Regions from separate parts of the Homo sapiens genome. Here region 2 is linked to region 1. Evidence: fine-mapped expression QTL. A gene starts in region 1. The other region holds a variant in brackets. All regions are shown on one strand. Distances are between the middles of the regions.

Region 1 (5,235 bases):
TAGGGAATTTAGCAAAGAGGAAAATACCAAAATGCAAAAAGAAAATGCAGTGAAATGAAGAAACCTGAAGAATTTGTACTCAATAGAACTATCTGTTAATATACAACAGTCAAATAGGTCTGCTAGTCCTTTCATATCAACATTACAGACATATTTAATGATTGAGCTCTAGTATACGCTTCATTCGTGAGAACGTCACAATTTCAAAATTCACTACAATTCGGTATATCGTAAAACTTACAATTTACCCTTGCAACAACAATTAAAGGGCATGCTTTCAAAAAGTGTGAACAAAAGGTACATTTAGCTCACCTGAGAGTGAGTGCAGGCCAAGCTGTACAAGCCTCACGGACCACACTGGCTTTAATAATTACTAATGATGTGTCTGTTCGTTTAGGAACTTCTAAGAGGCTCCATGCACACCGTCTGCAGCTCTGGGTGGAGGAACTATGCTCAGGGCATCTTGGGCCTTACCTTCCCCTCCCTGTGGGGAATCTTCAATTCACCCAATACAGGGCCTACACTACAGGCAAGATGATACCATCAATAATAACGACGGATAACGGTCACACACTCACTTCTTGCCATGTACTGCTTCTAGTGTTTTAGATGCATCATCTCATTTAATGTTCAAAACAAACCTAAAATGCAGGGACCATCATTATCCTTAGTTTATAAATGAGGAAGCCAAGGGGAAAAAGTTCGTAACTTGATTAAGGTCACACTGCTAAAAATGATGACACAAGGATTTGAACCCAGGCTGTCTGACTTTGGGGCCCTGAGTCTATGAATATACACTAAGAAAAGAATTAGGAAATCCAGCACAGAGCTCAGGGTACTCTATCTGAGGAATTAAAAATTTAGCCTCTAGTTCTTGCGTTTCTTTTTTGTCCCCTACTTGAAATATATTATCTCCCTGATATCTGCCTCTGCCCAAACATATTTTACTCCTGCTAGAGGTAACTCTATCCATCTTGACTCATAAAAACAGGTTAAGATCATGTTTTTCCTTTGAGTCACCAAATGCTCTTAGTCTCTGTCCCCATTTGAACTTCTTTTAGAATGTAGGTTTTTAGAAGGGCTTTCCCTACACAAACGACAGCAGCTGTGCAGAGTGCTACGTCCACCCACACGTGGGCATCTGAATCTGTGTGGAGTGGGGTATTTAAATCCAGAACACTCAGGTCAAGCTGCTGAGCAAGTTCAAGCAAGTTCACTCCTGACAGCATAATACCCCAAGAGGACACACACACACACACACACACACACACACACACACACACACACGCACACAGCAAATATAAGACGCAGAAGTCAAAAATCCATTTGTCATCCCAAACAATTTCTCACACGGTAATTTTTTTAATTTCCATTGCTAAGTTTTTAAGGTTGCCAGGTTTAGCAAATAAGGATACAGAATGCCCACTTAAATTTGAAATTAAGGTAAATTATGAATTGTTTAATGCATGTCTCATGCCATATGTGAGTTATACTAAAAAAGTATTCCTTTTTTTCTGAAATTTAAATTTAACTGGGTATCCTGTATTTTATCTGGCAGCCCTATAAGCATATTAGAATCTTTCCTATTTTGCCTAGATAATATCTCTAAAGTCACTTAATCATTTTTGTCATTGGATTCTTTGTGTGTGTGTGTGTGTGTGTGTGTGTGTGTCCAAATTTGAAATATAAGGCCCTGCAAAGACTTTAGCATTTCAGATATTCAAGGAGATGCTGAAACCATGGCCTCATGCTCTTCACCTTAACTTCAGTCATAGGGCTGAAGTTCTGCATGGGCGTTCCAGTAGATAAATCCCATGGGGAGGCAGCATTAATTGACACCAGCCAGACCCAGATTCCATTCCATACCATCCTGAAAACATGGCTCCATAGAGTTATGCGTTGCCTTGATTTTGTAACACCTTCATTTCTTAAAAACACTTGGATCCTTTTTTTAATACAATGAGTTAAAATTATTTAGATTTCAAAATTTGGAAACACCTTTTAGTAAAGTGAAAGCACCCTGGGCTTTTTGTAAATTTAGAGATGAGGATGCAGAAATTTCTGCATTATTTATTATTTGTATTAGCAGGAAACTCCCAAAAGAAGAAAACTCATCTAATGGGGTTGAGAGGATAAGTGCTTAGCAAGGGCTGGGTAGCCTTCTGCCCTAGTGTTCCCCTAATGCCCTACAGCTTGTGTTGCAGACCATTCTAATTTCACTCACACTTTTCTAATCCCCCCAATTAAAATTACCCAAAGGAATTACTTCTTTGCTCTCAAAGAGAAAAAAATGCAATATCCCTTTTGAGACATAAATAATAATAAGCAGGGGCTGGGTGCGGTGGCTCACGCCTGTCATCCCAGCCGTTGGGGAGGCCGAGTCGGGTGAATCACAAGGTCAAGAGTTTGAGACCAGCCTAGCCAACAGGGTGAAACCCTGTCTCTACTAAAAATACAAAACGTTGGCTGGGTGCGGTGGCTCACGCCTGTAATCTCAGCACTTTGAGAGGCTAAAGTGGGCAAATCATGAGGTCAGGAGTTCGAGACCAGCCTGGCCAACATGGGGGAACCCTGTCTCTACTAAAATACAAAAAATTAGCCAGCCGTAGTAGTGTGTGCCTGTAATCCCAGCTACTTGGGAGGCCGAGGCAGGAGAATTGCTTGAACCCAGGAGGCAGAGGTTGCAGTGAGCAGAGATCGCACTACTGCACTCCAGCCCGGGCAACAGAGTGAGACTCTGTCTCAAAAAAAAAAAAAAAACACCATTAGCCAGGTGTGGTGACAGGCGCCTATAATCCCAGCTACTTGGGAGGCTGAGGCAGGAGAATTGCTTAAACCCGGGAAGCGGAGGTTGCAGTGAGCCAAGATCGCGCCATTGCACTCCAGCCTGGGTGACAGAGCAAGTGTCTGTCTCAAAAATAATAATAATAGTAACAAGCAGGAACAACAGCAGCAAAAAAACATGAGATGGAACACTCCCTTACCTGCCCACTGTCCCATTGACCGCAAGAAAGACTTTGGCAAAACTTTCCAGTAGTTCAGTAAAACACATCTGGAGAATCTCACGCACTTCGCCAGGCAGGCCAGGCACACCAGCAGCCCTGTGAGGATGAAGAACTGTTCCAGGACGTCCCCCATGGCTGCACTCAACAGACTGTTTCAGCCCTGGCCGTGGCTCTCTGTGTATGCCTCCTGGGACCACGCTGCTCTGGAGACCTCCAGATCTTCTTCCAGGAGTCACTGGACGTGTTCCATCAAGTCAGGGGCATCTAGATTAAAGTAACTTCTTTACATAATCCTCTGACTCACAGGCCTTTGAATAAGGCTTTTGTTACTGTGGAGGAGCTGGTGAAAAAGTAAAAGGTGGACATGAAGGGAAAAAAACAAAGCCTGGACAAATATAAAATGGCAGCCCACAGTTCTCTCCCTGAATTTGGGAAAGTTAAAAAGGATGCAGAATCCAAGGCAATTATTCATACATTTAGCACTATGTATTGACTGCCTACCAGGTGGAGTCCCCTCTTGAAGGCATTAGGAAGTTAATAGTGACCACAGAGGGTCTCTCTGGTTTGGAGCTTAGATTCTGGTAGCAGGGACAGATGATGAGCAGATAAATAAGATAACATCAGATGGGGCAGTGGCTCACGCCCATAATCCCAACATTTTGGGAAGCCAAGGCAGGCGGGTCACATGAAGTCAAGAGTTCAAGACCAGCCTGGCCAACATGGTGAAACCTCATCTCTACTTAAAATACAAAAATTAGCCAGGCCTGGTGGTGGGCACCTGTAATCCCAGCTACTTGGGAGGCTGAGGCAGGAGAATCACTTGAACTTGGGAGGCGGAGGTTGCAGTGAGCCAAGATCACGCCATTGCACTCCAGCCTGGGTGACAGAGTGAGATTCTGTCTCAAAAAAAAAAAAAAGATAACATCAGTGCTATGAAAAAGCACTATTGAATGATGTGTTTGAGTAGCTACTCAGGGAATGCTTCAGAGAGGGTGTTCAGGAAGGAATTCCATGAAGAGGTGGCATTTTTAGTTGAAATTTGAATGAAAAGGAGCCAGCTCCGCAAAGATGAGTTTCCCCCTCCAGGCTAATGGAACGGCTAGTACAATGCCTGAAGTGAGAAAAATCCACGTATTTGAGGAATAAGAACTAGGACAGGACAGGCATGGTGGCTCACGCCTGTAATCCCAGCACTTTGGGAGGCCGAGGCAGGCGGATCACAAGGTCAGGAGATTGAGACCTACTAAAAATACAATAATTAGCTGGGTGTGGTGGAGCATGCCTGTAATCTTAACTACTTCGGAGGCTGAGGCAGGAGAATCGCTTGAACCTGGGAGGTGGAAGTTGCAGTGAGCTGAGATTGTGCCACTGCACTCCAGTCTGGGCGACAGAGCAAGACTCCATCTCAAAAAAAAAAAAAACACTAGGACAACACAGCAGAGGGACTGGCCACAGAGAGTAAGGGAGGAAAAGGCCAGAGCAGGAGGGAGGAGCCATGCCCTACGGGTGAGTGTGGACTTTCAGAGCAACCAGAAGCCATTGCACAGATTTAGGAAACAGAGTTCTATACTCTGAATTATGCTTTTAAAAGGCCACTGGATGCTGAGGGAAGATGTCCTTCTGGGGGTGGGATGGAGGGTGGGTGTGACAACTGAAGCAAGGGCAGCCAGGATACTGAAGTCATCCCTGCAGAGGCCACAGGATCAGTCCTTGGCCTTCTCTCATTTCTGCCTGTGCTCACTCTCAGCTCACTCTGTGCTGCAATCAACAGCCTTGCGCTCACCCTAGAAGCAGAATTGCTGGCCAGAACATAGATTCATACGTCTTTATGCTAGATATTGTCAGATTTGCCTTCATTTTGCATTCACGCCAACAACACGTGAGCATGTTCGTTTTCCCACTGCCTTAGCAGTAAAGCATGTTGTCAAGCTTTGGGACTTTTGCCACCCAGTAGGTAAGAAGTAGCATCCAATGTTGTTTTAAGTTTAAATTATCTTATCAGCCAGGTTGGAGAGATTTTCTTAAGCCTAAGAGCTATTTTCACTGTTTTCTTTGTGAATTTTCTCTCTCCTGCCCGTTTTTCTATGTGGTTTTTGGTCTTTCCCTTCTCTGTATTTAGAGATGGTTTCAGGACTCTGATTAGTCAGAAATTCGACCTGCTCACTCTGTCCTTCATGGTCATTGATTATCTCTTCAGGTGTGTCTGATCATTGTTAAGTCAGCCCATTGT
Region 2 (5,235 bases), 22 kb before region 1:
GAACAGAATAGAGAGCCTGGATATAAATTCACACATCTACAGTCAACTGATTTTTAACAAAGGTGGCAAGAGCACACAATTAGGAAAAGATAGTCTCTTCAACAAATGGTGTTGGGAAAACTAGATATCCGCATGCAGAAAAATGAAAGTGGAACTTATCTCACACCGTATACACAAATCCACCCCAAAGGGATTAAAGACTTAAATGCAACCTCTAAAGCCATAAGATTATTAGAGGAAGACATAGGGGAGAATCTTCCTGATGTTGGTCAGGGCAATTATTTTTTAGATATGACACTGAAAGCACAAGCAACAAAATAAAAATAGACAATTGAAATTGCATCAAACTGGCCAGGTGCGGTGGCTCACACCTGTAATCCCAACACTTTGGGAGGCTGAGGTGGGTGAGTCACAAGGTCAGGAGATCGAGACCATCCTGGCTAACACAGTGAAACCCTGTCTCTACTAAAAAGACAAAAAATTAGCTGGGCGTGGTGGCAGGCGCCTGTAGTCCCAGCTACGCAGGAGGCTGAGGCAGAAGAATGGTGTGAACCTGGGAGGCAGAGCTTGCAGTGAGCCGAGATCACACCACTGCACTCCAGCCTGGGCGACAGAGCAAGACTCCAGCTCAAAAAAAAAAGAAAGAAAATGCATCAAACTAAAAAGCATCTGTGCAGCAAAGGAAACAATCAACAGAGTGAAAAGGTAACCTACAAAATGGAATAAAGTATTTGCCAACTACATGTCTGATAAAGGATTGATATTCAAACTATATAAAGAGCTAATAAAACTTAATAGCAAAACAAAACAAATAACGTGATTTTAAAAAAGGAAGAAGGATGTAAATAGACATTTTTCAAAAGAAAACATACAAATGGTCAATAGGCATATGAAAAGATGTTCAATATCGCTAATTATCAAGGAAATGCAGATGAAAACCACAATGAGCTATCACTTCACACCTGTTAGAATAGCTACTATAAAAAAGACAAAAGATAAGTATTGGCGAGGATGCAGAGAAAAGGGAACTCTTGTATACTGTTGGTGGGAATGTAAATTGGTACAGCCATTAGGGAAAACTGTATGGAAGTTCCTTCAAATAATAACTACTTTATGATCCAGCTTCTGGCTATATATCCAAAGGAAATGAAATCAGTATGTCTTCAAGGTATTTGCACTCCCTTGTTCATTACAGTACTATTCACAATAGCCAAGATATGGAAGTAACCCCAATATCCATTAACAGATGAATAAGGAAAATGTGGCACACACACACACACACACACACACACACACACACAATGGAATATCATTTAGCCTTTAAAAAGAGAAGGAAATCCTGACATTTATGACAACATGGATAAATGTTGGACATGGATAAATGAGGAGATTATGCTAAGTGAAATAAGTCAGACACAAAGACAAATACTGCATGATCTCACTTATATGTGGAATCTAAAACAGTCAAGCTCATGGAACTACAGAGTAGAATGTTGCTGCTAGAGGCTGGGGGAGGGGTAAATGGTGAGATGTTGGTCAAGGGACACAAAGTTTCAGTTATGCAGGATGAATGAGATCTAGAGAACTAATAGACATAGTTAACAAGGACATAGTTAACATAGAACATAATTAACAAGGCTGTATTATATGCTTGAAATTTGCTAAGAACTGTAAATCTCGTTTTCTCACCCCTCCCAAAAAAGAACAAGAAAAGATCATGGTAATGATATGAAATAATAGATACGTTCGTTAACTTGATTATGGTGATTATTTCACAATGTATACATATTTCAATATATTAAGAAGTCATACACTTAAATATATACAATTTTTATTTGTCAATTATTCATCAGTAAAGGTGCAAGGAAATATTCAATATTTTTTAAGTTAAAGGAGAACAAAATAAATACACAAAAATTAGATGGCAGTGCTCTTGAAATGGGTGTGGGGATGTGTGTGGAGAGGGTGGGTGCTGCGTGGGGCTTGAGTGGGGCCACCCTGCTTGTGTCCAGCTGGGCTGAGTGATTGTCTAAGGCCACAGCAATTACACACACTCCCTAAGGGAACTCTGTCTACAACTAGGCAGAAATGATGGGAACCATGAATTTGATGGTAGGCCATGAATTTGATGTCTTTATTTGATGTAAGCCTATTTGGCTGCTGTTAAGTATTGGGTTTTTCTTATAACCTCCAGTAATTAGAAATAAATGAGGACTGTAGGTACCCTCCCACAAAACCCAGCCAGCAGATGGTGCCTTACAAGGCAAGCAAGCTTCAGACTGAACTCTAC[C/T]ACACCTAAAACATCAAGCTGGATCAAAGAGTCAGGAACCTGTTCTTGAAAGCTCAGTGGAGCCCCAGCTCTCTGACCCTTAGGCAGTCTACTAAATGTCTTGCATGAGGGCTCATCCCCGGTAGATAAAATATTCTAAGGGGTGGATACAGTCAACCTTCTAGCTAAATCACATGGCAGAATCCTCCACTACGTGGCAGGATGTGGGACCAAATCACAGTTCAAGGCCATGAATGCTACTCTGCTATACCCACAGATATTACACCTGTAAATCAAAAAGTGTCTGAGACAGGTCTCAATCCATGCTGAAGTTTATTTTTCCAAGGTTAAGGACATTCCAGTGGCACAGCCTCAGGAGGTCCTGCGAACATATACCCAAGGTGGTTGGGCTACAACTTGGTCTTACATGTTTTAGAGAGACATAAGATATCCATCAATACATGTAAGATGTACGTTGCTTCTGTCCAGAAAGGCAAAACAACTCAAAGGGGTGGGTGTGGGGGGACTTACAGGTCATAGGTGGATTCAAAGATTTCCTGATTGGTAATTGGTTGAAAAAGTTTATCTAAACACCTGGAATCAAGAGAAGGGAGTGTCTGGGTAAGATAAGAGATTGTGGAGACCAAGGTGTTTATTATGCAGATGAAGCCTCCAGGTAGCAGGCTTTAGAGAGAATAGATTGTAAATGTTTCTTATCAGACTCCCAGTTAATTCTCTCCTGAATCAGGAAAATGACCTGGAAAGGGAAGGGGATTCTCTACAGACCATAGATTTTCCCCACAACAGAGAGCTTTGCAGGGCCATTTCAAAATGTGTCAAAGAAATACATTTGGGGGTAAAATACTTTGATTTCTTTTAGGGCCTGCTGTCTGTGATGTTGGTATCTTATTGCTACAAAGAGTCTGCTTTGTCACTCTTTTTTTTTTTTAGATGGAGTCTCGCTCTGTCACCCAGGCTGGAGTGCAGTGGCGCGATCTCGGCTCACGGCAAGCTCCGCCTCCCAGGTTCACGCCATTCTCCTGCCTCAGCCTCCCAAGTAGCTGGGACTATAAGCGCCCGCCACCACCCCTGGCTAATTTTTTGCATTTTCAGTAGAGGCGGGGTTTCACTGTGTTAGCCAGGATGGTCTCGATCTCCTAACCTGGTGATCTGCCCGCCTGGGCCTCCCAAAGTGCTGGGACTACAGGCGTGAGCCACTGTGCCCGGCCTGCTTTGTCACTCTTAAGGTCTCTGTGTTGATATCAGCGGTGCTCAGCTGTGCCTGAATTCCAAAGGGAGGAGGCCGTAATGAGGCATGTTCAACCACCCATCTCCATCATGGCCTGAACTGGTTTTTCAGGTTAACTTAGGAATGCCCTTGGCCAAGAGAAGGGGTCCATTCGATTGGTTGGGAGACTTAGAATTGTATTTTTGGTTCACATACTTTTGTTCATTCAAGGGTAGAAGTGCCTGTACAACATTTTTTCACCAATCCACTTATTTTGAACGACTATTCCACAGTATAAATAATTTCCTCAGGAAAATTACTTATAACATCTGTTAGGCTAGCAAGCCTTCTAATGAAGGTCAAGTTAGCTGAGGCATAGATGTTGATGAACTCTGATTTGTCATTTTTAAAAATAACTAAAAACTCAATTTATCCAGGGTTCTGGCAGAAATAGCACACTCAAACTGAGTAATTTGGAGAGAGTTTAATATGAAGAAACCACAAGGGACAGTGCAATAGGGTGGGGCTGGCAACACTGAGCTGCTGTTACCATGTCAGAGGTATTTGAGCCACAGCAACTCCATCTTAAATAGGAGCTGGGTGAAATGAGGCTGAGACCTACTGGGCTGCATTCCCAGATAGTTGAGGCATTCTATGTCACAGGGTGAGGTAAGAGGTCAACACAAAATACAGGTCATAAAGACCTTGCTGATAAAACAGCTTGCAGTAAAAAAGCCAGCTAAAACCCACCAAAACCAATATGGCGAGGAGAGTGACCTCTGGTCATCCTCATTGCTACACTCCCACCAGCGCCGTGACAGTTTACAAATGCCAGGGCAATGTCAGGAAGTTATCCTATATGGTCTAAAAGGGGAGGCATGAATAATCCGCCCCTTGTTTAGCATATCATCAAGAAATAACCATAAAAATGGGCAACCCGAGGGCTGCTCTGTCCATGGAGTAGCCATTTTTTATTCCTTTACTTTCCTAATAATCTTGCTTTCACTTTATGGACTCACCCTGAATTCTTTCCTGCTCAAGACCCAAGAACCTTCTCTTGGGGTCTGGATCAGGACCCCTTTCCTGTAACATCTTTCTGGTGACCACAAAGGGATTATAGTGTGAAAACCCCCTTCCCAAAGCCTAACTTTGGGTAAGTGGTGGGGTCTGGTAACATCTTTCTCACTAACCCTGAAGGCACAATACTAAAGAAGCCCCAATACTAAAGAAGCCCCCGACCCAAAAAAAATAGACTACAGCACTGATTGGATGGCTTTGGGTAAGTGGGGCGCATTTACCCGGGTAAAGGATGGGGCTGGGTTAGAGGCCCAACTTAGGGGAGTTAGAGCCTCTCCTAAGACAGAGCAGGTTAGAGGCCCTTCTTAATAAAAGGCAAGGGCACTTGACTAGCCTTGGGTTAGAGTCCTAACTTAGGAGGGTTAGAGTCCCTTCTAATATTTAGGGGGTTAAAGTCCCCTCTCAGAAAAGTCCCTCTCGTAAAGTCCCTCTTGGCTAAGAATGGGTTTGGCCCTACGGGATGTTAACTGCTTTTCTCTTTGGAATAATCTGCCTTTCGCTCTTTGCTAATGGCTGTGGGTGACAGGATTAGGCATGTACAGCATTGTGGTACACGGGGAACTTTTTCCTCCCTAAAAGGGGGAACTTAAGAGCTGATGAGACTGCAGGAAAAGATCCCTTCACTACTGACAAGCAGCCACCTGAACTTTTCAGCGTTGCT

The links. PIP is the estimated chance that this variant, and not a neighbour inherited with it, causes the effect. A credible set is the group of variants that fine-mapping cannot tell apart.
Region 2: its variant is the best candidate, but not a certain one, in a credible set for the expression of HSD17B3 in whole blood (TOPMed, PIP 0.72).

What each region holds. Positions count from the first base shown.
Region 1 is chr9:96,298,967-96,304,201 of GRCh38, forward strand. HSD17B3 (hydroxysteroid 17-beta dehydrogenase 3) reads right to left here and starts at 3,210. Exons shown (of 11, transcript NM_000197.2): 1 at 2,985-3,210. The coding sequence starts at 3,138. It overlaps SLC35D2-HSD17B3 (SLC35D2-HSD17B3 readthrough), which reads right to left. Exons shown (of 26, transcript NR_182427.1): 16 at 2,985-3,345.
Region 2 is chr9:96,276,571-96,281,805 of GRCh38, forward strand. All of the region lies in intron 2 of HSD17B3 (hydroxysteroid 17-beta dehydrogenase 3), which reads right to left. The region is part of intron 17 of SLC35D2-HSD17B3 (SLC35D2-HSD17B3 readthrough); the gene reads right to left. Among named protein-coding and RNA genes, the nearest start is that of HSD17B3, 23 kb to the right of the region's middle. The variant C/T (reference allele first, on the strand shown) is at 2,291.